Regions from separate parts of the Homo sapiens genome. Here all the other regions are linked to region 7. Evidence: fine-mapped expression QTL. A gene starts in region 7. Each other region holds a variant in brackets. All regions are shown on one strand. Distances are between the middles of the regions. Region 1 has its middle 62 kb from the start of NBPF9. Region 2 overlaps GPR89B (G protein-coupled receptor 89B). Region 3 has its middle 21 kb from the start of PDE4DIP. Region 4 overlaps NBPF14 (NBPF member 14). Region 5 has its middle 6.8 kb from the start of RNVU1-1. Region 6 overlaps PDE4DIP (phosphodiesterase 4D interacting protein). Region 7 holds the start of PDE4DIP (phosphodiesterase 4D interacting protein).

Region 1 (4,570 bases), 200 kb before region 7:
GTATTGCTGAGGAAGAAGGCTTTAATCAGGTGCTGCAGCTGAGTAGACAGGAGTTGAGTCTCAAATCTGTCTCCCTGATTGACTCAAGTTAGGGGTTTATATAGCACAGAAGAAATGTAACTGTGTGTGGGAAGAGAGAAACTAGGGAGGGGTGAGGAAGCACTTGTGATGAGTGAGGGGACTGGCATCTCATTGTCTGGATGCTGTGATTGGCTGAGTTTCAGGTCTCTGATGCTTTTTGAGAGGACTGAGAGTCCTTTCCTGAGGAAGGAACTCAGATAAAACAAATATAATTTTCTTTTATAGAATGGCTTGACCTCAGGAGTTTGAAACCAGTCTGGGCAATATGGTGAAACCCTGTCTCTACCAAAATACAAAAAAAAAAAAAAAGAGGGTTGCTTCCAAGATGGCTGAATAGGAACAGCTCCGGTCTACAGCTTCAAGTGAGATAGACGCAGAAGACAGGTGATTTCTGCATTTCCAACTGAGGTACCTGGTTCATCTCACTGGGACTCGTTGAACAGTGGGTGCAGCCCATAGAGGATGAGCCAAAGCAGGGTGGGGTGTCACCTCACCTGGGAAGTGCAAGGGGTTGGGGGATTTCTTTTTCCTAGCCAAGGGAAGCTGTGAGTGACTGCACCTGGAGGAGCAGTACACTCCTGCTCAAATACTGTGCTTTTTTCCACTGTCTTTGCAACTGACAGACCAGGAGATTCCCTCTTGTGCCTGCCTCGGCAAGTCCCATGCCCATGGAGCCTTGCTTGCTGCTAGCACAGCAGTCTGAGATCAACCTGCGACATTGGAGCATGGCAGGGAGAGGGGGTTCTGCCACTGCTGAGGCTCGAGTACTTGGTTCCATGGTCACAGTGTAAACAAAGTGGTAGGGAAGCTCGAACTGGGCAGGGCCCACTGCAGCTCAGCAAGGCCTACTGCCTCTAGATTCCACCTCTGGGGGCAGGGCATATCTGAATAACAGGCAGCAGACAGCTTCTGCAGACTTAAATGTCCCTGCCTGACAGCCCTAAAGGCAGCAGTAGTTCTCCCAGCGTGGCATTTGAGCTCTGATAATGGACAGACAGCCTCCTCAAGTGGGTCTCTGACCACCGTGTAGCCTAACTGGGAGACACCTCCCAGTAGGGGCCGACAGACACCTCATACAAGTGGGTGCCCCGCTGGGACAAAGCTTCCAGAGGAAGGATCAGGCAGCAATATTTGCTATTCTGCAGCCTCTGCTGGTGACACCCAGGCAAACAGGGTCTGGAGTGGACCTCCAGCAAACTCCAACAGACCTGCAGCTGAGGGACCTGCCTGGTTAGAAGGATTAACAAACAGAAAGGAATAGCATCAACATCAACAAAAAGACATCCACACTAAAACCCCATCTGTAGGTCACCAACATCAAAGACCAAAGTAGTACATAAAACCACAAAGATGGGGAGAAACCAGAGCAGAAAGGCTGAAAATTCCAAAAACCAGAGCGCCTCTTCTCCTCCAAAGGAACACAAGTCCTCACCAGCAAGGGAACAAAACTGGATGGAGAATTAGTTTGATGAGGTGACAGAAGCAGGCTTCAGAAGGTCGGTAATAACAAACTTCTCCGGGCTAAAGGAGCATGTTCTAACCCATCACAAGGAAGCTGAAAACCTTGAAAAAAGGTTAGATGAATGGCTAACTAGAATAAACAGTGTAGAGAAGAGCTTAAGTGACCTGCAGGAGCTGAAAACCACAGTATGAGAACCTCATGAAGCATAAACAAGATTCAATAGCCAATTCAATCAAGCGGAATAAAGGATATCAGTGATTGAAGATCAAATTAATGAAATAAAGTGAGAAGACAAGATTAGAGGAAAAAGAGTAAAAAGAAATGAACAAAGACTCCAATAAATATGGGACTATGTAAAAAGACCAAATCTACATTTGATAGCTGTACCTGAAAGTGACAGAGAGAATGGAACCAAGTTAGAAAACACTCTTCACGATATTATTCAGGAGAACTTCCCCATCCTAGCAAGGAAGGCCAACATTCAAATTCAAGACATACAGAGAACACCACAAGATACTCATTGAGAAGAGCAACCCCAAGACACATAATTGTCAGATTCACCAAGGTTGAAATGAAGGAAAAAATATTAAGGGCAGCCAGAGAGAAAGGTCGGGTTACCCACAAAGGGAAGCCCATCAGACTGAGAGCGGACCTCTTGGCAGAAACACTACAAGCCAGAAGAGAGTGGGGACCAATATTCAACATTCTTAAAGAAAAGAATTTTCAATCCAGAATTTCATATC[C/A]AGCCAAATGAAGCTTCATAAGTGAAGGAGAAACAAAATCTGTTACAGACAAGCAAATGCTGAGAGACTTTGTCACCACCAGACCTGCCTTACAAGAGCTCCTGAAGGAAGCACTAAACATGGAAAGGAACAACCAGTACCAGCCACTGCAAAAACATGCCAAATTGTAAAGACCATCTATGCTATGAAGAAACTGCATCTATTAATAGGTAAAATAAGGCCGGGAGCAGTGGCTCACGCCTGTAATCCTAGAACTTTGGGAGGCTGAGGCGGGCGGATCACAAGGTCAGGAGATTGAGACCACCCTGGCTAACACTGTGAAACCCCATCTCTACTAAAAATACAAAAACAGAACTAGCCGGGCATGGTGGCGGGTGCCTGTAGTCCCAGCTATTCAAGAGGCTGAGGCAGGAGAATGGTGTGAACCTGGAAGGTGGAGCTTGCAGTGAGCCGAGATCACACCACTGCACTCCAGCCTGGGTGACAGAGCGAGACTCCATCTCAAAAAAAAAGAAAAAAAGGTGGGAAATAACCAGCTAGTATCACAATGACAAGATCAAATTCACACATAACAATATTAACCTGAAACATAAATGGGATAAATTCCCCAATTAAAAAACACAGACTGGCAAATTGGATAAAGAGTCAAAACCCAGGGGCTGTTCCAAGATGGCTGAATAGGAACAGCTCCAGTCTACAGCTCCCAGCATGAGTGATGCGGAAGATGGGTGATTTCTGCATTTCCAATTGAGGTACTGGGTTCTTCTCACTGGGGCTTGTCAGACAGTGGGTGCAGGACAGTGGGTGCAGCTCACCGAGCATGAGCTGAAGCAGGGCAAGGCATCGCCTCACCCAGGAAGTGCAAGGGGTCAGGGAATTCCCTTTCATAGCCAAGCAAAGCTGTGGCAGATGGCACCTGGAAAATTGGGTCACTCCCATGCTAATACAGCACTTTTCCAATGTTCTTAGCAAACGGCACGCTAGGAGATTATATCCCATGCCTGGCTCAGAGGGTCACACACCCACGGAGCCTCACTCCTTGCTAGCACAGCAGTCTGAGATCGAACTGCAAGGTGGCAGCAAGGCTTGGGGAGGGGTGCCCGCCATTGCTGAGGCTTGAGTAGGAAAAAAAAGCTGCAGGGAAGTTCAAACTGGGTGGAGCCCACTGCAGCTCAAGGAGGCCTGCCTGCCTCTGTAGACTCCACCTCTGGGGGCAGGGCATAGCCAAACAAAAGGCAGCAGAAACCTCTGCAGACTTAAATGTCCCTGTCTGACAGCTTTGAAGAGAGTAGTGGCTCTCCCAGCATGGAGTTTGAGATCTGAGAACAGACAGACTGCCTCCTCAAGTGGGTCCCTGACTCTCAAGTAGCCTATCTGGGAGGCATCCCCCAGTAGGGGCAGACTGACACCTCACACGGCCGGGTACCCCTCTGAGACAAAACCTCCAGAGGAACGATCAGACAAAAACATTTGCTGTTCAGCAATATTTGCTGTTCTGCAGCCTCCACTGCTGATACCCAGGCAAACAGGGTCTGGAGTGGACCTCCAGCAAACTTCAACAGACCTGCAGCTGAGGGTCCTGACTGTTAAAAGGAAAACTAACAGACAGAAAGGACATGCACACCAAAACCCCATCTGTATGTCACTATCATCAAAGACTACAGGTAGATAAAACCACAAAGATGGGGGAAAAAAAGAACAGAAAAACTGAAAATTCTAAAAATCAGAGTGCCTCTCCTCCTCCAAAGGAATGCAGCTCCGCACCAGCAATGGAACAAAGCTGGACAGAGAATGACTTTGATGAGTTGAGAGAAGAAGGCTTCAGAATATCAAACTACTCCGAACTAAAGGAGGAAGTTCGAACCCATTGCAAAGAAGTTAAAAACCTTGAAAAAAGATTAGATGAACGACTAACTAGAATAACCAATGCAGAGAAGTCCTTAAAGGACCAGGTGGAGCTGAAAACCATGGCATGAGAGCTACATGATAAATGCACAAGCTTCAGTGGCCGATTCGATCAACTGGAAGAAAGGGTATTGGTGATTCAAGATCAAATGAATGAAATGAAGTGAGAAGAGAAGTTTAGAGAAAAAAGAATAAAAAGAAATGAACAAAGCCTCCAAGAAATATGGGACTATGTGAAAAGACCAAATCTATGTCTAATTGGTGTACCTGAAAGTGACAGGGAGAATGGAACCAAGTTGGAAAACACTCTGCAGGATATTATCCAGGAGAACTTCCCCAACCTAGCAAGGCAGGCCAACATTCAAATTCAGGAAATACA
Region 2 (4,570 bases), 880 kb after region 7:
TATCTATTTGTTATTAGCCCAATGTCATTTAAAAGTTCCTAATATGGAAAAACATATGCACTTGGCTGAGGTTTGGTAGTAGTGTACAACAGAAGAAGCTAAAAAATGTCTACTGAGGTTTAAATGTCAGTCAACTATTTTCTGGTCTCTGTTGTTTCTAGTAGGAAGTCAGCCATTACTTTTTTTTAGTTAAACTTTTTGAAATAATTGTAGATTCATAATGTAGTTTTGAGAAAAAATACAGAGATTCCATGTACCCTTTACCCAGATTTCCTCAACTGAAATATCTTGCAAAACTCTAGTACAACCAGGATACTGACATTGATAGAGTCACAATACGGGACATTTCCATCACTACAAGGATCTTTCAGGGTGCACCTGTACAGCTTACCTCCCTCCCACCTCCAATTCCTTAATTCCGGCAACCACGAATCTGTTCTCCATTTCTGTAATTTTATCATTTCAAAAATGTATATATAACTAGAATCATACGGTATATATTCTTTGGGGATTCTTTTTCACTCAGCGTAATTTTCATAAACATTCAAGTACAGTTTTTTGTGTGAATATAAATCTTCATTTCTCTGGATAAATGCCCAGGAGTGCAATTGTTGGGGTGTGGTAACGGCATGTTTAGCTTTTAAAGAAAGAGCTAAACTGTGTTCCAGAGGGACTGTACCATTCTACATGGATGCCAGCAATGTATGAGTGATCCAGTTGCTCTGCATTCTTATTAGTATTTGGTGTTGTCACTAATTTTTATTTTAGCTATTCTGATAGGTGTGTAGTGATTATCTCGATGTAGTTTTAATGGCATGTCCATAATGGCTAACAATGTTGAACACCTTTTCATGTGGTTATGTGCCATTTGTATATCCTCTACAATAAAATGTTCATCATTTTTGCTTATTTTCTAACTGCATTTTTTTTAAATGTAAGCTTTGAATGTTTTTTATTCTAGATACTAGTGCTTTCTCAAATAAGTGGCTTGCAAATATTTTCTCCCAGTGGGTAGCTTATCTTTTCATCCTCTTAACAGTATTTTTTTTTTTTTTTTTTAAGAAGGAGTCTTGCTCTGTCACCCAGGCTAGAGTACAGTGGCTCCATCTTGGCTCACTGCAACCTCCGCCTCCCAGGTTCAAGCCATTTTCCTGCCTCAGCCTCCCGAGTAGTTGGGATTACAGGTGCCCGCCACCACGCCTGGCTAATTATTGTATTTTTAGTAGAGACGGGGTTTCACCATCTTGGCCAGGCTGGTCATGAACTCCTGACCTTGTGATCCACCCACCCTGGCCTCCCAAAGTGCTGGGATTACAGGCGTGAGCCACCGCACCGGGCCTTAACAGTCTTTTACAGAGCGAAAGTGTTAAATTTTGATGGAGCCCAATTTATCCATTTTTTCCTTTCATGGATTTTATTTTTGGTATCAAGTAAAGAACTTTTTGTGTAGCCCTTGATTCCAAAGATTCTTTTTTTTTTTTCTGAAAGTTTTATAGTTTTACATTTTAGTCTATTATCTGTTTTAATTTTTTTTTTTTTGAGACGGAGTCTCGCTCTGTTGCCCAGGCTGGAGGGCAATGGCGGATCTCGGCTCACTGCAACCTCCACCTCCTGGGTTCAGCAATTCTCCTGCCTCAGCCTCCCCAGTAGCTGGGATTACAGGTGCCCGCCACCACACCGGGCTAATTTTTTGTATTTTTAGTAGAGACAGGGTTTCACCATGTTCACCGGTCTAGTCTTGAACTCCTGACCTTAAGTGATCCGTCCGCCTTGGCTTCCCAAAGTGCTGGGATTACAGGCATGAGCCACCGCGCCTGGCGTGTTTTAATTTTATATAAGGTGTAAGACTTAGATTTAGATTCATTTTTTAAACCTATGGACGCCTAATTGCTCTAGCACCATTTGGTGAAAGGTTATCTTTCCTCCACTGAACTGCTTTTGCATCTTTGTCAAAAATTAGCTGGGTGTATTTGTGTCAGTATTTCTTTTCTTTTCTTTTTTTTTTTTTTTTGAGACAGAGTTTGGCTCTGTCACCCAGGCTGGAGGGCAGCGGAGCAATCTCAGCTCACTGCAACCTCTGCCTCCTGGATTCAAGCAATTCTTCTGTCTCAACCTCCCAAGTAGCTGGGACTACAGGCGCATGCCACCATGTCCAGCTAATTTTTGTATTTTTAGTAGAGACGGGGTTTCGCCATATTGGTCAGGATGGTCTCAAACTCCTGACCTCAGGTGATCTACCTGCCTCAGCCTCCCAAA[G/C]TGCTGGGATTACAGACGTGAGCCACCGTGCCTGGCCATGTGTCGGTATTTCTGGGTTCTCTTTTCTGTTCCAGTGATCTATGTCTACCAGTACCACAGTCTTGATTACTGCAGCTATATAATATGTTTAAAGATCAGGTAGAGGAATTCCTCTCATACTGTTCTTTTTAAAAATTGTATTAACTATTCTAGTTATTTTGCCTTTCTGTACAAATTTTAGAATAATTTTGTGTATATCTACAAATAAATCTTGCTGGGATTTTGAAATGAATAACATTAAATTTGTATACCAATTTGGGGAGAATTAACATCATTACTATTCAAGTCTTCCAATCTATTAACATGGTTTATTTATATCTTATTTGATTTTTTCATTAGTTTTATAATTTTCAGCAAACAAGTCCTATATACATGTTTTGTTAGACTTCTATGTATTTCATTTTGTGAGTGATTGTAAGTAGTGTATTTAAACATTTGATGTTCATATGTCCGTTGCTAGCTTATAGAAAGACAATTGATTTAAAAAAATTGGATTTTCAAGATGGGGTCTTGTTACGTTGCTCTCAGGCTGCACTCAAACTCCTGGGCTCAAACAATCCTCTCGCTTTAGCCTCTTGAGTAGCTGGTCAAGCGCATTCACCACTGCTCCTGGCTACAACTGATTTTTGTATGTTCATTTGGTATTCTACAATGTTGTTGAATAACCATTACTTTTTTTTTTCCCATTGTTGCCCTGTATGTATCATTTTCCCCTTGTTGCTTTCAAGATTTTCTCTTTACTTTTGCCTTTTAGCAGTTTCACTATATATACACATAGGTGTAGTTTTCTTATGTTTTGGGCTGGTATTTCTTTCAATGCTTTTTCTGCCCCTTTCCTTTTCTTTAGAACTCCAATCACAAGAATGTTGGACTGCTTGATATTGTCTCCTACTGAGACTTTTGTTGAGTTTTCTTCAATCTTTTTTTAAAAAAATATTTACTATTTTTTTCTTCTTTTTGAGACAGAGTCTCGCTCTGTCACCTGGGGTGGGGTGCAGAGGCGTGACTGCAGCTCACTGCAACTTCCGCCTCCCAGGTTCAAGCCATTCTCCTGCCTCCATCTCCTGAGTAGCTGGGACTACAGGTTCCCACCACCACGCCCAGCTAATTTTTTTTGTATTTTTGGTAGAGACGGGGTTTCGCCATGTTGGCCAGGCCTCAAGTGATCCGCCTGCCTTGGCCTCCCAAAGTGCTGGGATTACCTGGCCATTTTTCTTCAATCTTTTATCTATTCTTCAGATTAAATAATTTCTATTAATCTATCTCAATTTTTATTTTTATTTTATGTTTTGAGACAGTCTCGCTCTGTCACCCAAGCTGGAGTGCAGTGGCATGATCTCAGCTCACTACAACCTTGCCTCCTGGGTTCAAGTGATTCTCCTACCTCAGCTTCCCAAGTAGCTGGCACTACAGGCACGTGAAAGCATGGCCAGCTAAGTTTTGTATTTTTGGTAGAGACAGGGTTTCACTATGTTGGCCAGGCTGGTCTCTAACTCCTGATCTCAGGTGTCCAACCACCTCGGCCTCCCAAAGTGCTGGGATTACAGGCGTGAGCCACCATGCCCAGCCTGAATTTTTATGGATCTGATTCTTCTGTCATCTCAATTCTCCTGTTAAGCCCACCTAGTAAAATTTTTATTTCCGTTACTGTAGTTTTCAGTCTTTGGATTTCTATTTTGTTGTTTTTTAAAAGTTTCCATTTCTTTGTTGGGATTCTCTTTTCACTTGTATCATGCTTTCCTTCACTTTTTTGAATATATTTGTAATGGTTACTTTCAAGTCTTTGTTAAATGTGTAATCTGGATCCACTTGGAGTTAGTATCTATTGGCTGCTTTTTATCTTGAACATTGGTCACATCGTCTTGTTTCTTTACATGTCTAGCAAGTTTTGGTTGAAGGTAATATGTTGTAGTGACTTTGGAATCTGTTTTGTTTTTCTGAGAATTGTTAATTTTTTTGGCACTAGTAAGCAGTTAATTTACTTAAACTGTGAAATCTGTCATACCTGCAGCAGCTAATGTTTCTGCTCAGTTTCTTGGTTTCTAGCTTCTCCTTTTTAGCCTAACTCCCTGATATTCTCTGCTGAGCTTGAGCTTGTGTAGGGTAGTGGTAGTCTGGACAAATTCTATAGTCATATTTTAGGGCTTATCCTCTCTGTGGATCTTTTGCTTCTAGGGATCTCTCCTAAATTTTCAACTGCTTTGCCAGTCCTGAGATCTACCCTCTGACACCTCAAGCCAGAAAAGCTTTCACTTTCTGTCATCCAAACTGTGTG
Region 3 (4,570 bases), 21 kb after region 7:
AGATAAATCATATTTTAATGCAATATTTTAGAAAAATAGTAACGCAAAAAAAATCCGCAATGAACAAAATATCAAAACTTTAAATAAAGACAGGATCTGACCCTGCATTTTCATGATTCAGGGAGTGTCTTACTTGCTTCGTCCTAGTCCAGGCCCAACTTGTTCATCCCCAGATGATGTGCCAAAAGCCACATCTTTAGGTGTCTCCTCTGGTGCTCTCTAGTGCTATGTTCTGCTGACCTTGTTGGCAACAGCTCTCTGTCTGTTATGAATGGTTGGACATCAGGTGGCACCTTTAAGATACCACAAGGTAAAAGCAACTCTCTGAGCCAAGGCCAGCTCTTCCAACCTCCTTCCAAACAGTCTTACGTCTCAAGGGCAAGTTTCTGTGATGTATAGGGCATCAGGGAGAGGGTAGAATGGGGTAGAAAGGGGAGATAATGGGAGAGGGAAAAAAGAACAGGTGACCTCATGAGTTGGCACTAATGTAACTAGAGTGCAATTTTTCAAGAGTCTATCTTTTTTAAGAAAACCTTGAGCCCCAACTCTTATTTGGAGGCACCTGCTCACTCACCTCCAAAACCAAATCCACCTCACCTCTATTCTTCTTTTCACATTGTGTACGGGTAGTTCTGGAAATCAAAGTGGCCATGCTGCTTCCTCCATGCAGCCTGTAGTGAATTCAAGTAGTGTAGGATACTTCAAACTGGAGCTTCTCTACTGTGAATAGCTGCTCATCCCCAAGTACCAAACCTAATTTTGTGACAATGAAAACCATCTGCAGGTGCCCCCTGCTGGTGGTACTATCCTAGAGACTTGCCTTCACTGATGTATTTTGTTTGGTCAATGGTCCAGAAAGTCACAGTCACAGTCACCAACACTATTCCCTATGCCCTTACACCTAAGCAGGTTCACTTATTTATGCTACCCGCCAGGCACCTGCAGGTGTGTGGCATTTGCATTTTCCTTCTATGGCTTCCTAGTTCCTCATGGTGGGAACCTGGGGCCCGACTTCTTGCCTCTCAAACTATTAATATGTCTGCCTCACAGGGCCAGGCACTTCTCTAGTCTTGAGTCACCCATGTCATTCTTTTAACCTACCCTCGGGTAGGACACTGGAGCCATAGATGTGAACCTTAGCCTTTAAGGCACGCAAGAAGACACTGAAGTCCCCAGGGCCAGTCACTGCCAGCAATGTCTTCCAGCGGTGGTTGAAGGGATGACTGAGGCAAGCAGAGTCTGAGTTTGTTATTGTTCTGAGGATATAGACAAAAATCTTTAATAAGGCTTACATAGCTTGGCATAGTCTTCAGCCTCAGCTCTGGTTATACTCCCCCTTCCCTTTTGTGCTTAGTTTGTACTAGTCTTGTTCCAGAAGAAGAAAGGGAGAACTAATTCTGCTGCTCCTCTGGTGTCCAGGAGCTCAGGTAATGGATGCAGACTGTAATAGGCAGTCTCTAAGTTGGTCCCCAGTGATCCCTGGTCATCAAACCCTTGTGTAATTCCCTCGCCTTGAGTCTGGGATGGATCTAGTACTCATTTGTAATGAATACAGTAGGGCAGCAGTGATGGAATGTTGCTTCCGAGATTAGATTATTTTTTAAAAAGCAAAAACAACTGTGGCTTCCATTTGGAGTATGCATGCTCTCTTTCTTTTAGATCAGTTGTGCTGTGGGAACTAAGCTACCATGTTATAAGCAGACCTATTGTGTGGACAGGAACTAAAGCCTGCCAAATACCGTGTGCGTGAGTCTGAAAACGGACCTTTCAGCCCCTGTCGAGTCTTGAGATGACAGCAGCCCCAGCTGAGTGCTTGACTGCAACCTCATGAGAGAACTTGAGGCAATTCTAACCAGCTAAGCTGCTCCCAGATTTCTGACCCTCCAAAACTGTGAGTACTAAATACTTGCAGTTTTCAGCCACTGAGGTGATTTGCTATGCAGCAATAGTAATAGTAACAAACACACAGACTTCTGAACCTTTCCCCAATCCAAGGTCATTCTGTGGAGTTAGAGACCCA[GC/C]TCTCCCATTCACAAAGAAGCTATTATTCTCTCTACAGTAAAGAAAGACAAAGAAGTCAGAGCAGTTTTTTAACGCTGCACATCAGGAAACTAGATGTATGCTGAAAATTTGGGAGTGATAAGTAGGACCTTTCCCAGTCTGTAGAATATACCACCAAAGCATGCTCACTCGAGAATGTGCTTTTGATTACTACCAAGCACACTTTTTTTTCTTTTTGAAGATATGTGCAAACAATGAAAACCCTTCTTGCTGAAATTACAATATAGCCGTACATTTTGGTTGAAATGTTTATTTGGAGATTTCAAAGTCAAGGTTGATATAGCCAAAAGATAATACAGATTAGACTATCATGGAAACAAAAAGAATCTAAAATTTGATATTGTTTGTACACTAGGGTCACTGCTCATGTTAACATTTCCTTCATTGCATCCACTTTCTCGGAGCTGGTGTTGTAGGGTTAGATGTGAGTGTGAATGAGCATGCGTACAGTGGACAAAATCCCCCCATTCTGTAAATGCGTGTGCCTATTATTCTGGGCAGTGAACCCAGCCTGCTTTAAGTCTTTGTTATTTGAATAGTGTCCCAGATTCTCCTTTGAAATGTGCGGTTCACCTATTTTTATTAACCTTAATATGGAGCTTTCTGATGCTTTTTTGATAGATTCTTGGTCGTGCCCAGGTACACTTCCTTTCGTTTTAAACAGGTCATATATTTCTCTGTGCTGGCCTTCAGGTGGTGTGCCATATAAATTAGAAAGCAAATTTTCACAAGGTCAAATTTTAATCATGCAGCTTAGTATTTTTAAACAGATGACATTTTCATACTTGGTATGCTAACTTGAAGACCAGACCATTTTTGCCCAAGTTCTACCAAAGGTTTTCGTTTTATAGTCTTCATTTGTTTTGTTTTGGTTTACTTTTTAACAAAAAGCAAACCTAGGAAAAAATTTTAAAAACATACAAGATGCACAAAAACAATTACTCTAATACACATGAAACAGAAAATCAACACCTGCCAATTAAACACAACTTCTACCATTTCATAACTGTGTGATCTTGTCAAATTACTTAACCTCTCTATAAAACGGGATCACGATAGCATCTTTCTCACAGAATTATAGTGAAAATTAAATAATATTATTCTTATGAAATGTTTAAGATCGGGCCTAGCATTTATCATTTACTCGATAAATATTAATCATGTAATTATATATGTAATTATGGTGATAATGATAATGTTGCTGCCATGAGATGTCAGGTTTCACAATATAAAATCATTACAGAATTCTGTTTGGAACTCCTGTGAGACCTAGTATGAATCACCTATAGTTATGAGGCTGCTCTAGCAAATAAATCTAAGAGAACAGGCAACTTCATGAAGAGGTTAAAGTGTCCTAGGGCAGTGGTCTCCAACCTTTTTGGTACCAGGAACCATTTTCAAGGAAGACAACTTTTCCATGGACAGGGTGGGGGATGGATTTGGAATGATCATCAGGTATTAGATCCTCGTAAGAAGCAGGCAACCTAGATCCCTCATATGCCCAGTTCACAATAGGGTTCCCGTTCCTATGAGAATTGAATGCAGCTGCTGGTCTGCTGATCGACAGGAGGTGGAGCTCAGGGGTAATGCTCGCTGGCCTGCCACTCACCTCCTGCTATGCAGCCGGGGTCCTAACAGGCCAGAACCAGTACCAGTCCATGCTCTGGGGGCTGGGGACCCCTGTTCTAGGGAAATACCATCACCATGTCTGCTACCCCTCCCACCGTGGGCGCTACCACCATTTGGTCACCATATGCAACCCTGTGTGAAGATATTCTTAATACTATCCAGGGTCCTTTTCATTTGAGTGACCTCTATCTCTTTGTCCCACCATCTAACTCCCACCCTCATAATGAGTGGGGAGAAAACCTCCACCAGGGTGAAGCAAAAAACCTCAAACAGAGGCTTCAAACAAAACTTAATATAAAGACTCCAACCATGAAGTTGTCTCTTTTTATCCCCCGGTTATCTTCTTTGTTGGTTTTGTTTTCGGGATCTGCAGGGTACCAAGTTATCTGCTAGAAGGCTCAGTCCTTCTCTTCTTACCAGCCCCACTGCTACCGCCATGATGTAAATCGCTATGATCTCACATTGGTGTTACTTACTGCAATAGCCAGCAAAGCAGCTCCCTTCCTTCCACTCTTGGCCTCCTAAGGTCTGTTTTCCAATAGCAAAGTGACTTTTTAACATTTTTCAGATCATATGATGTTCCTGTTTTAAATCTTTATTGGCTTCCCCATGTCCTTAGAATAACATCCACTTCTTACCACGGCCTATGAGGTCTCAGGTGACCTGGCTCAGGTTCACCTCTGCCCCCTCCTCTTATTTATTATGCTCCAGCTGCACTGGCCATTTTCTTCCTCAAACACACTAAGCTTATTTCTACCTTAGGGGTTTTGCAGTTCTTTCACCTCCTGCTTTAATTCCTCTCTAACGAAATTTTTTTAAAATAAACTTTATTAATATCAGAAATCCCTTTATTTGTATATTTATTTATTTGTTTTCTGTC
Region 4 (4,570 bases), 250 kb after region 7:
CTTTTTCAAACAAGTAATTGTTGAGGTGAAATTTACATAACACAAAATTCACCAAAGGAGTGGGAACCACCCAGCAGCATTCAGTATAATCAAAATGGTGTGCTATCGCCACCCCACTTACCCTTAGTGAGAATCACCTCCTGACTGACTGCGGCTTCTCATTCTTTCACTCAATCAATGTTGCCTCCTCGACCCTGTCCTTCTTTTCTTCTTTCATCTTTTCAATTCGCCCCATCTGCACCTGGCCTCATTTCTGTACGTGGCTTTGTATGTAGTGGCCGCAAGATGCACTATGTGTATTTTCACATGGAAATGTCCATGGCCAGAGTGAGGAACTGAAAGGATGTCTTTTTGAAACGGAATTAGGAAGACACCTACTTTTGTTTACAGAAGAGAAAGATGAATGGAACATCATCGAGGATCTTGCAGGAGCCCTCTCTGATAGAGGGAAAGCCTGTAGACCATTTTCTATTCTTTCTCTTGGCCACAGTCATTCCTTTCAACATGTGCTGACCTTCTGCTTGGAGGTCTCCTTGATGACATTGTCTCAGAAGTCTCTGTTGCAATATTTGAACGGATCACTCAACCCTTTCTACTCTTAAATTTTCTCTACCGTCTCACCTTAGGCAATATAAAGTCCTGGTTCACTCTCAGGAACGAGAGCTGACCCAGCTAAGGGAGAAGTTACGGGAAGGGAGAGATGCCTCCCGCTCATTGTATGAGCATCTCCAGGCCCTCCTCACTCCGTATGAGCCGGACAAGTCCCAGGGGCAGGACCTCCAAGAACAGCTGGCTGAGGGGTGTAGACTGGCACAGCACCTTGTCCAAAAGCTCAGCCCAGGTAAGGTGGCCATAGGCCCTGATGACCCAAAACCCCAGGCTTATGAGAGGCTCCAGACCTCCATACTTTCACAATGACAGTTGTATCAGTGGGGTTTTTTTCTACTACACCTATGTGGCCATGACATGATCAGGACTTCCTGGGTAAGAACAGAGATGGGAAACCCATGGGTTTGGAGGTCACAGTATTGCAAGTGTCCCTCCTTCCTTGATGGAAGGTGGTCTTTGGAGCAAGAGGCAGCATCTATCTAGTTTTAAAGGACAGGAAGGAGGCTGTGATGGAAGGGCGCTTGTTGGAGTGAAAAGAGCTCTGGGCTAAGAATGAAGGTTCCCAGGCTGTATTTTTGGCAATGTTCTTAGTAAGTGTCAGTGAGTGATTTATCTTTTCAGAGTTTCTCTCTCTCCATCTGCAAAGGCAGACAAATTGTCTCTTGCAAGGGTCTGAAGCATCCAAATATGGGAACACTTACGAATGCTTTTCAAAATGAGATGAAGCCCCTCTCCATGTGGTGTTGGAGAAGGCACTTGATGTGGGGGCATTTGGTGGTAGGAAGTGCTTCAGACTGGAGCACTCCCCATGGATAGAATGTCCCTGAATAACACAGCAGAAGCCACATGGAGGGCCTGTGCAATCTCATGACGCATAGAGGACTGTGGGACAAGTTTGTCCTCTCCTAAGAGAAAGAATGAGGTTTGAAATGCGAACTGTGACAGGACACCAAGCCTGTTCCTGGGAATCAGATCTGTGGCAGGATGGGGGAGACAGCTGCCAAAGTCCAGAGAGAGGCTGCACAAGCCTCCAGTGATATGGGAAGCAAAAGGTCTTTTCAGTATTTGGCCACATCTTGATGGTGGCCCTCCACATCAGAAATGCATTGCCCGATGGACCAGGAAACCATGCCAGGGCATTTTGTGAAAGATAAAACATGAGAGTTTTCAGTACAATGCTGAACCATACATAGATGTTCATGTCTCTGTGCACGTTGGGCTGACTGTGCTTGCAGAATGTGAAGTGGGAAATA[T/C]CTGAACGAACATTTTGTATTTCTAGAAAATGACGAAGATGAGGATGAAGATGTTCAAGTTGAGGAGGCTGAGAAAGTACTGGAATCATCTGCCCCCAGGTAACACTGAATACTCAGGAGCAAGTAATGGGTGGTAACGTATGAAAATGTCTAGGAGGCACACCCTCTCTGGCATCTATGATGGGCCAAATGCCCGCATTCCCTTGGCCACAGTATGTGAAATTCAACCCAGCTTAGACACAGGGTGCGGCAGCTGTCGTGTTTCTCTATGTGTGCCAAGTGTCATGTCTGTACCATACAGGGATAGCTGAGTCTTCATCCTCCTCAGCTCCTATCTGTTCAGTGCACTGAACACCAGCTGCTCTCTTCCTCTCTGGCTCCCATGGCAGCCATGGTCTGTTGCAGAGAGAAGAGGATTGCCTGTTCCCTCTTTAAGGGAACCTCCGTTTTGCTTTCTGGAACCACTCTCTTAATGCCACCTGTCAAAACCAGCTAGGACTCCCTGGGGTCCAATCCCTCTGTGTTTAATCTTCTGTCATCTCTGTCCCACCTGGCTCATCAGGGAGGTGCAGAAGGCTGAAGAGAGCAAAGTCCCTGAGGACTCACTGGAGGAATGTGCCATCACTTGTTCAAATAGCCACGGCCCTTGTGACTCCAACCAGCCTCACAAGAACATCAAAATCACATTTGAGGAAGACGAAGTCAACTCAACTCTGGTTGTAGACAGAGAATCCTCTCATGATGAATGTCAGGATGCTCTAAACATTCTCCCAGGTAGCCTCTATTTTCCTTGTGTCTCATACCTCTGTCTAGGCTATGGAAGATCAATTCTGAGGACAGGCTGTATATACACATATTGTTATTGTTTTAGTCAGAAACTAGGATGGAGCTAGGTGCTGTGACTCACACATATAATCACAGCACTTTGGAAGGCCCAAGTGGGACGATGACTTGAGTTCAGGAGTTGAAGACCAGCCTACACAATATGGTGAAACCCATCTTTACAAAGAATACAAAAAATTAGGCAGGCATGGTGCTGCACGCCTATAGTCCCAACTGCTCAGGAGACTTAGGTGGGAGGATGGGCTGAGATGATCCTCCCACTCTCATTCACTTCTGTCAGGCTAGACTCTCTCTCCTTTTCATTGGCTTGTCTTAGCTATTAATAAGTCTCGGCTGGGAGCAGTGGGTCACACCTGTAATCCGAGCACTTTGGGAGGCCGAGGCGGGTGGATCATGAGGTCAGGAGATTGAGACCATCCTGGCTAACACGGTGAAACCCCATCTTTACTAAAAATACAAAAAAAAAAAAAAATAGCTGGGCGTGGTGGTGGGCGCCTGTAGTCCCAGCTACTCAGGAGGCTGAGGCAGGAGAATTGGCATGAACCCAGGAACCGGAGCTTGCAGTGAGCCGAGATTGTGCCACTGCACTCCAGCCTGGGAGACAGAGCGAGACTCCATCTCAAAAAAAAAAAAAAAAAAAAAAAAAAGTAAGTCTCTGACCAGGGGCGCTGGCTCACATCTTAATCCCAGCACTTTGGGAGGCTGAGGTGGGCGGAACACCTGAGCTCAGGAGTTCGAAACCAGCCTGTCCAAGATGGCGAAACCCCATCTCTACTAAGAATACAAAAATTAGCTGGCATGTTACTTGGCGCTTGTAATCCCAGATGCTTGGCAGGCTGAGGGATGAGAATCGCTTGAACCCGGACGGCAGAGGTGGCAGTGAGCTGAGATTGTGCCTCTGCACTGCAGCCTGCGTGACAGAGTGAGACTCCGTCTCAAACAAAAAACAAAAAACCAAAAAAGAAAAAAATTAAAAAAGCAAAATGAAATCTTTTGTGCTACACAGAAACATTGGCCACTCATGGGGTAAAAATCTCAGGGCCAAGCCTTGCTTTATAGAAACGTATAAGCAAGAAAAGTGTAGAAGTGTTTATGTCCTGGTTTCAAGGTGACTGCATAGCTAAGACAAGTTGACTTAAAGGAGATCAAGACTGGAGATGACAAGAGTGAAACCAGGGAAACATCATCTTCAAATAAGTAAACAAGGCTGCCAGTGACATCCCTCAGTCCTGATTAAGCCTATTTGATTTCACCAGTTTTTAACCCATCATGTGTTTGCCTTTCTTCTCCCCAGTCCCTGGCCCCACCTCTTCTGCCACAAACGTCAGCATGGTGGTATCAGCCGGCCCTTTGTCCAGCGAGAAGGCAGAGATGAACATTCTAGAAATCAATGAGAAATTGCGCCCCCAGCTGGCAGAGAAGAAACAGCAGTTCAGAAACCTCAAAGAGAAATGTTTTCTAACTCAACTGTCCGGCTTCCTGGCCAACCAACAGAAGAAATACAGTAAGATCTATAGGCTCACCATCATGAAAGTGATGAATGATATCCTGTCTTCTCTCTGAGACACTAAATGCTCTCTCCATCAAAAATAATTTCATCCTTCCTGTACTTCTAGGAAAACAGAAATGGGTATTTTAACATTTTGTCAAAGTTGGAAGACAGAGGTACCAAAGTATTTAGCAACTTTCCATGTTTGCAATCAGGTGGGGGTGGGACTAGAGTTAAACTGCCATTTATTGATTTCTGACACAGGCACAGAATGACCTGTTTTCTCCAAGAGGCTCAATCGTGTTTTCAAGAATCCTCTCTGTACCATATAAGATCCTGCAGACAAATAACATCTAGTCTGTTGTTCTAAATGTCT
Region 5 (4,570 bases), 480 kb after region 7:
TTCATAAGCACCACACTGTGACCCAAAACACATCGCAGGCCTTGGTCATCTGAAAAGCTCCTGAATTATGGGAAATCAAGCTTCAAAATTCAGCACACTGTGAAGAAACAACCACCTTTAGAAACACCAGCTGGGTTTATGTATAACACTTATGAAGCATCCTCTTGTAAATATCCAAGAAACTGGACCCACCTAACCATTTCCTGGTCATTTCCTAAGTCATAAGCAGAATGAAGAAAATTGGGATCTTTTGAAATGCTTAAAATAATTTATTAGTGTGCACAATTGGAAAATTTTTGTTTTTGTTTTTTTGTTTTTTGTTTTTTTGATGGAGTCTTGCTGTGTCACCCAGGCTGGAAGGCAGCGGCATGATCTCGGCTCACTGCAACCTCCGCCTCCCAGGTTCAAGCGATTCTCCTGCCTCAGCCTCCCAAACAGCTGGGACTAAAGGGACACGCCAGCATGCCCAGCTAATTTTTGTATTTTTAGTAGAGGCAGGGTTTCACCATGTTGGCCAAGATGGTCTCCATCTCATGACCTCGTGATCCACCCACCTCAGCCTCCCAAAGTGCTGGAATTACAGGCATGAGCCACCGCGCCTGGCCAAAAAATTTGGTTTTAGAACCAAATTAAATGGGAGACATACTTCCAATGATACCTAGAAATTTCTAAAAGAACTGAGAAAATTGCCTCCAGTGAGGAAGTAAGCTGAAGGAAGTCATCTGACACGTTTTCTGAATTGAGAAATATTGAGGAGGCTTTGTCTCTTTCGCCTCCAACTGCTGCTTCTCCTCCTGCCCCTGCACCTGCATAGTCTCCCTTACCTGAGCCCTCTGGTCCTGCCTTGCCTCTTCTTCCATCACCATCACCTGAGGAAAGTCCCCAGGGCTCTGGCCCCTTCCCTGAAACTTCTGTTCTGACAGCCCCTTTCAAGGTAAAACCCACAGGAAGAGGGGAGCCTACCATTCTGTATACTGCTTCACCAAAATGTGAATTAAGAATATTATAAAAAGACTTCCCTGGGCTGGGCGCAGTGGCTCTTGCGTGTAATCCCAGCACATTGGGAGGACTAGGCAGGCAGATCATGAGGTCAGGAGTTTGAGAGCAGCCTGGACAACATGGTGAAACCCCATCTATACTAAAAATACAAAAATTAGCCAGTCATGGTGGCACATGACTGCAATCCCAGCTACTCGGGAGGCTGAGGCAGGAGAATCTCTTGAACTTGGGAAGTGGAGGTTGCAGTGAGCCAAGACTATGCCATTGCACTCAGCCTGGGTGACACAGCAAGACTCTGTATCAAAAAAAAAAAAAAAAAAAAAAAAAAGACTTCCCTGATGAAAATTTACATGAATTTTCCCCTTCTTTCTTTCTTTCTTTTTTTTTTTCTCTGCTCAGTGCAACCTCCGCCTCCCGGGTTCAAGCAATTCTCTGCCTCAGCCTCCCAAGTGGCTGGGATTACAGGTGCCCACCACCATGCCTGGCTAATTTTTTTGTATTTTTAGTAGAGAGGGGGTTTCACCATCTTGGCCAGACTGGTCTTGAACTCCTGACCTTGTGATCCACCCGCCTTGGCCTCCCAAAGTGCTGGGATGACAGGCGTGAGCCACTGCACCCAGCTGAATTTTCCCTTTCTAATTCAAAAGCAACCTCCAAGATCCTATAGGGTTTAGGAGAAAATTTGACTTAATTGTCCAAACTTTTGAGCCTGGATATTCTGATCTTTATCAATTAATTCACATGTTGGTGTAAGAAGGCAGGGCCACTAAATGGTTGGAAAGGGTGAATTGGAATAATCCTTTAGAGGGTTTTTAAAAACAGACAGAAGCAGACAATGAAAGGGTCTGCATTTTTGCCAAATACCTCCATGTTGCCATTACCCAGGTTGTTCCCCAATATGTAGATTGGAGAATTCAGCAATGCACTTAAAAGGCCAAACAAATCTGTCATTGATATTTTAAATGGTTAAGATTTATTTATTGATTTATTGAGACAGGGTCTCACTCTGTCACCCAGGCTGGAATGCAGTGGCTCCATCATGGCCCACCACATCCTCAACCTCTCAGCTCTAGCAATACTCCCACCTCAGCCTCCCGAGTAGCTGGGACCACAGGTGCATGCCACAATGCCCAGCTAATTCTTTGATTTTTTTTTTTTTTTTTTTGTAGAGAGGACATCTTGCTGTGTTTTCCAGGCTGGACCTGAATGAACTCCTGGGCTCAATCAATCCTTCCACCTCAGCCTAACATTTACACTGGGAGCAGAGATGCATTTGGAGTAGGTGATGATTTTGGAATGCTTTAGAAGCAACATAGGTATCTGATTTCATCAGGTCAAGCCATCAAAAATGACCAATAAATCTCTGA[T/C]CTCTTAGAAGCAATTTGAAAACCCTTATCTTTGGCCATCATCAAAATTCCTGGTCATTCAAAACTAGATATTCCGGAGAGCAAGGACAATCATTTTGCTGATGCTGCAGCTAAGAATGCAGTTCTGAAGGTGGCATCAGACACAGAACTTCTCGAAATGACCTTGCTGACTTATGACCCATTGAAGACTTCATTAGAAGTAAAAGTGGGCTGGACATGGTGGCTCATGCCTGTAATCCCAGCACTTTGGGCGGCCCAGGCTGGTGGATCACTTGAGGTGAGGAGTTTGAGACCAGCCTGGCCAACATGATGAAACCCTGTTTCTACTAAAAATACAAAAATTAGCTGGTGTGGTGACACATGCCTACAATTCCTGCTACTTGAGAGGCAGAGGCACGAGAATTGCTTGAACCTGGGAGGCAGAGTTTGCAGTGAGCCGAGATTGCTCCACTGCACTCCAGCCTGGGTAACACAGCTAGACTCTAGCAAAAAAAAAAAGAAGCGTAAGTGGGAGCTCCTAAGCAGGAGAGGGATCTCTGGAAGGATAAAGGGAACAAGTTTCTTCCAGAAACAGGCTTATGGTATGGGCCCAATGATACACTGATCCACCCCTTAGGCTTCAATTACCCTGAATACAGTACTTCATAAGCTGCCTCATTGGAAATCAGATAAAATGTTAGCATGGGGAAAGCAATGGTATTGAAAATCATTGCCTATGATTGCAGAAAAGGTTTATTCTTGTGGTACTGTTTGTCCCAAACATCACCCTGGAAAGCCCCTTCATGGGTCACAAGGACATTTTAACTTTAGGACCCTTCGAGACATGGCAGTTAGACTTTATCCAGCTGTCTCCATCTCAGGGTCACAGATACTTTCTGGTGTTAATTTGTACGTGCTCACTGGGGTGAGCATTTCCATGCCAATGAGCCACAGCCCAAGTAGTAGGTAGATTGTGATTAGAAAAGGTAATTCCTGGCTGGGCGTAGTGGCTCACCCCTGTAATCCCAGCACTTTGGGAGGCCAAGGTGGGCAGATCACGAGGTCAAGAGATCGAGACCATCCTGGCCAACATGGTGAAACCCCGTCTCTACTAAAAATACAAAAATTAGCCAGGCGTGGTGGTGCACACCTGTAGTCCCAGCTACTCAGGAGGCTGAGGCAGGAGAATTGCTTGAATCTGGGAGGCGGAAGTTGCAGTGAGCTGAGATCGTGCCACTGCACTCCAGCCTTCCAATAGAGCTAGTCTCCATCTCAAAAAAAAAAAGAAAAGAAAAGGTAATTCCTCATGGGGAGTGCCATCTGAATGCCATAGCAACTGAGGAACACACTTCATTGGTCAGGTAATTGGATCCATTTGTAATGTTTTGCCTATGTCCCAACATTTCCATTGTGCCTGTCACCCATAATCCTCTGGGCCGATGGAATGTACTAATGACACAATAAAAACTCAGTTGGCAAAGCTAACAGAAGTTTTTAACCTTTCTTGGCCAAGGATCTCCCACTGGTTCTGGAAAATGTCCACACTCCCTCTCTTTGAAATAATAACGGAAGACCCATGCAGTGGTTAGATGAAGGCGCTTATGAATCTGCACTTCTTAAAGGTGACTTTCTCCATTACTGCTAAGATCTCTCAAAACTTACTAAGAACTCCACATTAATAAAGGATTCCTTTCATAATGCACTCCTGGGAGATGAAAATACTAAAAATCACGGCCTATAACCTGGAGATGTTGTTTACTAGAAACAACACCAAATAAAATATTCCCCCCAAGACTGTTGGAAGGGACCACATCAGGTATTATTATTATTTTATACATTTTTTTGAGATGGGATCCCATTCTATTCCCCAAGCCAGAATGCAGTGGCACAATCATGACTCAATGTAGCCTTGAACTCCTGGGTTCAAGCCATCCTTCTGCTTCAACCTTCCAAATAGTTGGGACCACAGGCATGGGCCACTGCACCTGACTCACAACAGGTATTACTGACCAATCTGTGCCATTAAACTTACGTGCGTTGACACACGGATTCATGTTTCTCTTGTAAAAGGCAACCCTGCCAGAGTGAACATCTGTCAGGAGATTTTCACTTAAAGGTAACTCAATCTTCCTGACAGAGATGGCAAGTAGCTGACATCTGTGGTAGTCCGCTTTCACCCAAGATACTGGCCTGTATAATCAGTTACAATTCCAGTGCTCACTGCA
Region 6 (4,570 bases), 82 kb before region 7:
TAAGGAAATAAAAACATCCCAAGTGTGTCTGGTGCAGGTTAAGTGGCTTAGTGTGTGGTAAGGAGTATAGAAAATAGTTTGCAACTAGTTTGTGAAAATCCTGCTAAGACAACTAGATAGGCCGGCCACGGTGGCTCACACCTATAATCCCAGCACTTTGGGAGGCCAAGGCAGGCAGATCACTCGAGGTCAGGCTTTAGAGACCAGCCTAACCAACATGGTGAAACCTCATCTCTGCTAAAAATACAAAAATTAGCTGGGCGTGGTGACATGCGCCTGTAATCCCAGCTACTTGGGAGGCTGAAACAGGAGAATCGCTTGAACCCAGGAGGTGGAGGTTGCAGTCAGCCAAGATCATGCTGCTGCACTCCAGCCTGGGTGACAGAGAGAGACTCTGTCTCAAAATAAAAAAAATTAAAAAAGTAAAAAACTGGATAATAATCAGTAGAAATCAAAGACTTATCAGGGAGCTTTAAGCAAAGTATTGGCATGATCGGGTCCATGTTGAAGAAGGAATTATGAAGAAGGTGGGTGGGTCAGGGGCAACTAACCAGAATAGGGAGGGGGACTGTCTAAGGACAAGAGGTACAGGGAGAAAGACTCAAAAGCCATTTCAGAGACAGAAGCCACAGGCCTTGATGACTTGTGAGATTCAGATTAGACTGGAGGGAGGACCAAAGACAATGCTGAAATTTCCAGCATGTCAGTGGGAATGCATTCTATTAACTAAAATAGGGGCAGGTTTGTAGGGGAACCTAAGGAGGTTTCTGCAAAATGTTAATTGAGGGATTACTTTATTTCAGCTTAAACGTTAGCATGCAAAGATGGATTAGTCCCTTCCCTGATGAAGTCCATAATACAGTATTAGGCAAGAAGAATGTTATTTAGTAAAGAAGTCTTTAGATCAGAGGTTGACAGAGAGACTGAAGGTAAAGTAGCTAAAGTATGAAAAGTAGTATTGTGGGTACTAGAACAGTAGGGAGGATTTTACTTTACTATCGCCATATAATAACCACCAACACCTAGACTTCTAGAAGTCCAAGGCAACATACAATAGCAGCATATTTTCTACCATACTTGTGAAGGCATTTCATAACCCATGTTTCCATGCAGGGTGGTCGAAACACAAATACTAATTGGGAAAAGTAGAAACCTAGTTTAGATATTTGAGAGTTACTTAGAATTAAAGAATTTTAGAGCTGGAAGGCAGTTGGACTCAAGGCATTTTAGATCATATTACTAGTATGTTTTTAGTGACATACTGAGAAGAATGTTTGTTCCCCTCATAAGTAGGTACCTTTTGACCAAGGTTAGAACATAGATTCAGATCCAGTGAGATGAAAATATCCTAATTTCTTCAAAAGAAGGAATGATAGCCCTGTCTTTTCAGGATATACTTTAAAGTTATTATTTTATGAACACTAAATAGCATTACCAGATTTAGCAAATAAAAATATAAGATATCTACTTCAATTTAAATTTCAGATAAACAACAAATAATTTGTTTCATTAGAAGTATATCCTTTGCAATATTTGAGACATAACTTAAACGCTAAAACATTGTTTGTTGTTTATCTGAAATTTAAATTGAATTGAGTACCCTGTATTTTATTCTGCAATACAAATACCAAAAGATTAACAAATGGAAACACGCATATTTCAATTTTGTATGAAGAACAAGTCTAAGATCTCTATATCAGTTCCATGGCCTGGCACTGCAAGAATAATTCATCTGTACCAATTGATGAATCAGTAAAATAGAAGATTTGCTAAACAGTTGCTATGTCCCCAGCTTTGTGGTCAATACTTAAAGGAATTCAAATGTCTTCATAAAAAATAGTCCCTAAGCTAGAGGCCCTTCATAGAGGTGAAGGAATATGCATTCAATTATGTGGGAAATGCAAAGAGGGAGCAACTTCCTAAT[G/C]TGTAATAGGCAGATAATTGTATTTTCCTCATTCATAAACCTACCTGAGAGGATCGTGAGGCATAAATAAATCAATACATGTAAAGGACTTAGGACAGTGTTTCTAACACAGGTATAACTATAATTTTAATTATAATAATATTATTATCACCATCATCATCAAGAACAACAGCATTATCATTTGGAACAGCAGTTTGCTTTCCATGAGACCATAATGTTTCAAGTGGATTCAGTGTTCAGGATATGGTGCTGAGAAAGAGGACTCCTAAGTTTATTATTATTTCTGCCACCAATTGATTCACTTCTGTGACCTTGGGTAAAATTCTGCTAAGGCTTCTCCACCTGGAAAATGACAAAGAGTGGGCAAAAAGCTATTTAAATCTCATATGAAAGAAAATGGAATCTATAATTATGAAGTGTTATTATCAATGATATTCCTATGCCTGGCTAATTTATATAAATCAGAAAAGTCTGGATATGCTAAACCACCTCAGATAAGCCAAAACTGCTTGAGCAGATTTTTTAAAAATCTCATATCTAAAAATACGTGAGGTCTCAAATGACTGGAGCTATATGGATGTCCTCTGCCTAGTTCTTAGTCTCATGATGTGACATAGGGAATCTCTATCAGGTATAAACTGATCAACAGAAAGTTCCCTGAAAAGTCCCTTACTATTAATACTATTTTTGCATGAGGAATCTTTGAATATTCAAATAAAAATAAACAAACAACAGGGAAAGTGAGAGGCACTATGAAACCAACCTAAAGCCAGAAAGAATTAGGTTCGAATCCTGGCTCTATCACTTTCCTGCTAGGTGACCTTGGGCAGGTTAACTAATCACTATGAGCCTCAGTTTTCTTATAAGTATAGTGTGGTTGCTTTGCTTTTTAATGAAGATAAGTATTCACGAGGGATTCTGTGAGGATTGAATGAGACAATGTGCATGATAAGCATAGAACAATGCCTTGCACACAGCTGTGCAACAACCTTGATTCACTTTCCCTTCATGTCCAGGCTGACTAGTGCCAGTCAGAGACCCCAGCCTTACCAGGAAAAATACTTAGATCTAAAAGGAAGAAAAACAGAGGACATAAATTAGTACGTTCTATCTGTTCTAAATCCTACTGAAGAAAATGAAGTCAATGCTTTGACCAATTTGGCCAAAGATTCACAGATTTGAAGACCTCAGCATTTCTGTGTTCTAGTTCTCTTAGTTTAAAGACAAGGAAATTGAAATCCAGAAGGGTTACCTCCAAGGTAAAAGCCGTAACTGAAACCAACACTCCACTCTTGCTTTAGCCTTTTATCAGAGAGACCAGCTTAGCAAACACTGCCCAGTTTTGTCTGATTTTGTAGAATGTGGTAAATTATAGAATTAGAGAATGTGCTGCATTTAGTCTTGAAAGAATATATGGAGGCAGTAAGTACAGTGGTCAAGAGCATAGGCTCTGAAGGCGAGAAGGGGGCTTGACAAGTCACCTGCCCTCTCTAAGAGCCTCATTCACCTCATCTATCAAGGAGATAACAATGATACCAATCTACAAAGGATGTTAGGGAGACTAAATGAAATTATGCACAAAAATCACATCGCACAGTGCCTGGCATGCAGTCAGTATTCAGAAAATGATAACTATTATTAACTATAAAAACAATAACAATTTACCCTCTCTAACTAGGATAGCTGAAATCCAGAAGGGTTTTCAAGGTAAAAGCAATAATCTTACATCAAAGTCTAACCTTCTTGCACCTTCTTTCTGTAGAAAAATCATCATATAGCTTATCACATTTATTCATTCTCCATTACTAAATATTCATGTGTAAATTGTTAAATTCTTTTATAGCATCAGTAGATTCCAAATTAACTGCATTTGCTTATTTTATCACCAAGTCTTCTTGGCTCTTTGTCAAGATATCTAAGGAAATTTATGTACTCAAGAAAGGGGAGATGGGAAGAAAGCACTTCTCTTTCTTCATGCCTCCAAAGGAGTGTTCGCCCATCTAACTCAAGAAAAAGTTTCAATGATGAAGCTGAAATTAAACTTCTATTAGGTATTTCTTCCTTCTCCCCAGGACTGGAGTACATGAATAGTCTCATATCTGGTTTCCCCAACCTCAGTCCCTCTACTACTTAAATTTTTCCTAAAGCATAGCTCTGGTTATTTCATTCCGTCTGTTCAAAAAGCATTTAATATGTGATGCAGGTCCAGCTAAAGAAGAAAAAGGAAAGAAAGAAAAAACCTTTTAACGATTTTTAACTGTACAGCGATTAAATTATACACAACTGGCCTGATAATAGAGTCTATTCAAAATTTGACCTCAATCTACCTCTCCAGCTTTATCTTCCATTATTATCTGCTAGCCTAACTGGATTTCCCAAACATGCCCTATGCTTCTTGGTGCCACATCATTGTGTGCCCTTCAGCTTCATGGTTAAATGCTCCGTCCCCTGTGAAGCCTTACTTTATCTCTCCAAATTAAAAGTAATTTCTCATGATGACATTATGAGCTTTCAAATATTCTTTTCATACTGCAACATTGGCATCCCGTGTAAATGCTTCATATTTCTACACCTGTCTTATTTACCCTTTTAAATTGCAAACTCCCTAAGGACAGAGGAAATGATGGTGTGGCAGAACTACCCAGG
Region 7 (4,570 bases):
CGCCCGGCTAATTTTTTTTGTGTTTTTAGTAGAGACGGGGCTTCACTGTGTTAGCCAGGATGGTCTCAATCTCCTGACCTCGTAATCCGCCCCCCTCAGCCTCCCAAAGTACTGCAATTACAGGCGTGAGCCACCTCGCCTGGTCTTTTTTTTTTTTTTTTTTTTTTTTTTTTTTGAGGCGGAGTTTCGCTTTTGTTGCCCAGGCTGGAGTGCAATGGCTTGATCTCGGCTCACCACAAACTTCTCCTCCCGGGTTCAAGCGATTCTCCTGCCTCAGCCTCCGGAGTAGCTGGGATTACAGGCACGTGCGACCACGCCCGGCTAATTTTGTATTTTAGTAGAGATGGGGTTTCTCCATGTTGGTCAGGCTGGTCTCGAACTCCCGACCTCAGGTGATCCGCCTGCCTCAGCCTCCCAAAGTGCTGGGATTACAGGCATGAGCCACTGCACCTGGCCAGAAAGCTTTTTCTTTACACTGAGCCATAACTCGCCTCCCAACAACTCGCTTGCATCGGTTGTTCTGTCCTCCTAAGAGATTCTAATGTGATTCAATCCCTCTACCACCAATAGCTCTTCGGAAATTTGAAGGAAGCTACCACATCCTCCCCACTCCCAGTCGTCATTTCTCCGGACTCAGGAGTCCCAGGTCCTTCCTTTGGCCATCCCTCAAGGCATGGCTTTGAGTTCCCTCCTGTCTCTTGATTGTACTTATTTTATCTAATGATGCCCAGAACTAAGCACAGCCCTCTCGGAGAGGCCCAAGAGGAGCAGAAAGGAGCCAAAAGTAAAATCATCACTTTTGATCTAGACAGAATCTAGACAGCCTACTTCTTCTGTCAACAAACCCTAAGCTTCAATTTGCTCCTTCTTTAATATTCACATTATACCATTCACTCCTGTTGAGCTTAGCAATCAACTAAAAGCACCCAAGTCTTTTGCATAAGCCCCAAATTTACCTTCTGTGTTTGTACCGTCTTCACTCTCTCAGGAGTCAGAGCGCTCATTTGGCCCCACCCCAATTCTCCAAAGCTAAATCCCACAGATGGAAGCGTATCTGTTATAGAGACACCGCTGGAATAGTCTCCCTACCCTCCCACCCACTAAAAAACAGAAACGAAGTCTTTGTCTCAATACATGGTCTCTTATCCTTACCCTTTCCTTGAATGGGGCTTCATTTTAAAGTGTGTCTGGGGGAAGGACTGGAAGAAAACGCAGTTTCACAGGCCATCTCCAAAATCTGACCTAAAAGCCAACTGTTGCCTGGCCTCAATAAAGCCTGAGCAGTGTGGTGCCCTGATCTCTTTCCTTCTCCATTCCTCCCCCAAGTGGGCTCCAACTGGAGGTTGTGGAGATGAGTGCTGCTGGGCTCTGCTCACTCAGTCCCTTTGCCTTTGTGTGAGTAGTGACAGATGAGGCTGAGAAGGAAAACGTGGCAGGGTGAGAATAAACCTGATATTGTTCAAAGCATCTGACATCAAACATATCTCTCAAGAAGACCTACTGGAATCCCTCTAGCCACACGAACAAGGAAACGACAGAGAACCATTTCTACAGAAAGTTCCAGGCGGCCTCCCTGGGTATTTTTAACATCAGGACTCGGTGGAGGGGAGAGTCATTAAGCAAGGGAAACCCCGTAAAACAGAACATGTGAAAATGACCAAGAGAGGTGGGCTGGGAACCAGGCAGGGCGAGGCTACAGAAAAGGGAAGCTGTCACGGGACCCTGGTGGTGAGGGGCGACCTCTCTCTCCCTAAGGGCGCTGGGGGAGGGGAGGGAGGAGGACCACCAAGTCTGGAGCGCGGCGAGAAGGAAACAGCCCACCTACCTCGTCCAGGTCTGCTCCATTTTCCAGGCTCTTTCCTTAGTCTCAGGACGCTCCTCACCCGGGAGGGGAAGCAGCCTGGGAAAATGAGAAGCCTTGCCCACGAATCTCCAGCGCAAAAGGCAGCAGCTTTTTCCTCCCCAGCTCCTTTCTGCGTCGGCGGCGAAGAGAGAGCTCTGCTCCCTGCTTTTTTAGAAAATGGATTTGACGTGGCCGAACCTGCGGCTAGCCGTGCGACCCGCACAAGGGAGGGACTGTTCTCAGTAGGAGGCTGGACTCAGAGCGGCGCGGCGCCCGGGGCTGTTTCGTGAGCTGGAGCCAGCGGCTGCCCGGGCCGCGGTGCGCGCACTCTCCAGGCTGAGACACGACTGGCTGGCACGAGTTGCTCGGCACCAGCTGAGCTGTCAACCGCGAGCGGAGGCGGGGCTCCCGACAACCAGTGTGCTGGGGCAGAATCGGCCCAGGTTACACGCCCCCTGAACCACCCTCGCGTCTCCCCGACCCCTCTCTCGCTGGCTCAGATGAATGATGACGGCAGAGGGCAGAGAGCTTAGAGGACGCGGTACCAAGCCCCGTCCCTCGCCCATCCCAACGAAGGTCTTAGAATACAATCAACCAACTACAGGAAGAATTTGTAGAGGAGGTTTTCTTGTGTGTCTGCATCGCCCCACCCACAGGTAACCCCAGAGCCAGAGATGGAGTCTAGGAAGGTTTAGGAGCAATCCCGGCTGAATGCAGATGTATACCCTACGTGGTCATGGAACACGATGTTGTCTTCCTAGAGATGTGACATGCCAGTTTCACCATTAATCCAGGGACAGGACCCTTCATCAGGAAGGGAAGCATCCCAACAAAACCTTACAGCCCTATTAGCTGCCTGTATCCCAGACATCTCCTGTTTTAGGGTATTCTACCTCCTCGTTTTTCAGTTTCGCCAGCAACTGGGCTCTACCAATAGCTTCAAGGAGGGAGAAGCTTCCTGACTCCCAGAACACTAGAAAAGCCTCAAGACAGTAGCCATCAGGACCTCGACACTCCCTTGTGACTGTTTTAAGATCATGGAAAAGGCCTCTTTGGAGATGGCATTGCCTCAGGCCCTGTACCATGTACTTATGTATCAAGATTTAAACAAGGCAGACATACTATAATTAGAGTGCTTGCCACCCTGAAGCTCCTTTTTAGCTTTCAAATAAGACCGTTTTATTAAATGACATAATCACTGTTATTATTAGCACTATCACTGACCTTTTTTTTTATCTGAAAAAGGCTTTATAGTGCCCACATGTGGCAATGTTAATTTCGTTGTACTTGTTTCAGAGATGATAAATTTGAGACCCCAAAAGGCCCAAAGTCTCTGCTAAGGTTCTGATACAGGCTGTGTTCTCCATTGGGTGGCCCCAGAGATATGTTCCCTGAATTTCTAAAGCTACGACCCACAAGACTTCTCCAGGATGAATTTATTCTTTCAGGCCTCCTAGGCATTTAACTCAGGAAGAACCTGGCATGCCTGGGTATTGGTGAGACTGTGGGGAGTCTGTGTTCTTGGGGGAACCTGTCATCTGTCTGTTATCTCTTGGATTGGTTCCCCTACATACTAGTACAAAGTAGGGGTGGGGAGGGGAGGATAACAAAACATTTGAAGGTTTAGCAGAACTGTCTAAAAAGCCCCTAGTCTAGACTCCTCCAACACTTGATTTATTGGTAGGACCACACTGCTCCAGAGCTCAAAATGTTACCAGGAAAAATTTCAAGGTCCAGTTTGATCTTAGACAAGGCTCACAGGCCACCTGTCTTGAAAAGAATATCCTGTTGCCTCTGATGGGGGGGAAGAAAAGGCAGGGAGAGTCAGATTCCCATCCTTCATACCAAAGTTGGGGCTATATTTAGCTTTGTCTCAAATCAAATTATGGGCTACCGAGTTGTGGAGAGGAACTCTGTCTACAGGCAGCTCACTGGATTCAAGAAATGATAGCACTAACTAGGTGAGCTGTGGGGTCTCAGAAGTGACGCTAGAAAATACGTTCATGTATTTTTAAAATAACTTTTTTCAAAAGTTTATAGCACATTCATTGTAAAAACATTTGAAAAATACAGAAAGTTATATAGATTACTCAGAATACCCAGGGATCTTCAATATTAAAAATGTGTTGCATTTTTTTCCCACTCTTTAAAAAATGCATCTTTTAATCCAAACACCAACTCTTTCTTACACACATGGGTATATTCTTGAGAAGAGAAATTTCCTTGTTGTTTTAAAAATTATACTTATTGTCAAAAGAACAATTTTTTTGCGTTAGATTTCAGAAGAAAAATATTCACCCATATAACCACTGCTACAGCACAAATGTTTAAATTTCTCCAAATTCCCTTTAGTCATTATCTATATATATTAAATATCTATTTACATAATTACGATTACAGCTTAGGTATATGTTTATATTCTCCTTCTTTCACTTAGTAAATATTTGTCCATGTTTTTAGGGAAAGTTCATAGTTATTATTCTAATGAGTGTACAATATTTTATAATATTAGTAGGACCATAGATTACTTAAAATATTCTACTATTGCATAGTTATGCTGTTTCTGATATTAGACTGTTATAAATAATGCCTTAATGAAGAGCTTTCTGCCTTTATCATTCTCCTTTTTTGAATTATGCTATGGTTGAATGTATGTATGCCTTCAAAATTCATACATTGGTACTTAACACCGAGTGTTATAGTACTACAGGGTGGGGCCTTTTAGGA

The links. PIP is the estimated chance that this variant, and not a neighbour inherited with it, causes the effect.
Region 1: its variant is the best candidate, but not a certain one, in a credible set for the expression of PDE4DIP in whole blood (INTERVAL, PIP 0.68).
Region 2: its variant is the best candidate, but not a certain one, in a credible set for the expression of PDE4DIP in whole blood (INTERVAL, PIP 0.88).
Region 3: its variant is the best candidate, but not a certain one, in a credible set for the expression of PDE4DIP in whole blood (GTEx, PIP 0.57).
Region 4: its variant is the best candidate, but not a certain one, in a credible set for the expression of PDE4DIP in lymphoblastoid cells (GTEx, PIP 0.71).
Region 5: its variant is the best candidate, but not a certain one, in a credible set for the expression of PDE4DIP in whole blood (INTERVAL, PIP 0.61).
Region 6: its variant is the best candidate, but not a certain one, in a credible set for the expression of PDE4DIP in sun-exposed skin (GTEx, PIP 0.78).

Annotation. Positions count from the first base shown.
Region 1 is chr1:149,039,519-149,044,088 of GRCh38, reverse strand. No RefSeq gene overlaps it. Among named protein-coding and RNA genes, the nearest start is that of NBPF9, 62 kb to the left of the region's middle. The variant C/A (reference allele first, on the strand shown) is at 2,287.
Region 2 is chr1:147,959,865-147,964,434 of GRCh38, reverse strand. The region is part of intron 7 of GPR89B (G protein-coupled receptor 89B); the gene reads right to left. Among named protein-coding and RNA genes, the nearest start is that of GPR89B, 34 kb to the right of the region's middle. The variant G/C (reference allele first, on the strand shown) is at 2,257.
Region 3 is chr1:148,821,449-148,826,018 of GRCh38, reverse strand. It overlaps a transcript of PDE4DIP not described here. Among named protein-coding and RNA genes, the nearest start is that of PDE4DIP, 21 kb to the left of the region's middle. RefSeq lists an enhancer at 460-1,002. The variant GC/C (reference allele first, on the strand shown) is at 2,021.
Region 4 is chr1:148,588,823-148,593,392 of GRCh38, reverse strand. NBPF14 (NBPF member 14) reads left to right here. Exons shown (of 71, transcript NM_001395631.1): 4 at 627-841; 5 at 1,889-1,961; 6 at 2,425-2,636; 7 at 4,000-4,209. Among named protein-coding and RNA genes, the nearest start is that of NBPF14, 4.9 kb to the left of the region's middle. The variant T/C (reference allele first, on the strand shown) is at 1,863.
Region 5 is chr1:148,367,025-148,371,594 of GRCh38, reverse strand. It overlaps LOC124904396. Among named protein-coding and RNA genes, the nearest start is that of RNVU1-1, 6.8 kb to the right of the region's middle. The variant T/C (reference allele first, on the strand shown) is at 2,367.
Region 6 is chr1:148,924,029-148,928,598 of GRCh38, reverse strand. All of the region lies in intron 4 of PDE4DIP (phosphodiesterase 4D interacting protein), which reads right to left. Among named protein-coding and RNA genes, the nearest start is that of PDE4DIP, 82 kb to the right of the region's middle. The variant G/C (reference allele first, on the strand shown) is at 1,925.
Region 7 is chr1:148,842,050-148,846,619 of GRCh38, reverse strand. PDE4DIP (phosphodiesterase 4D interacting protein) reads right to left here and starts at 2,192. Exons shown (of 47, transcript NM_001395426.1): 1 at 1,826-2,192. The coding sequence starts at 1,845. RefSeq lists enhancers at 1,299-2,021, 2,022-2,743.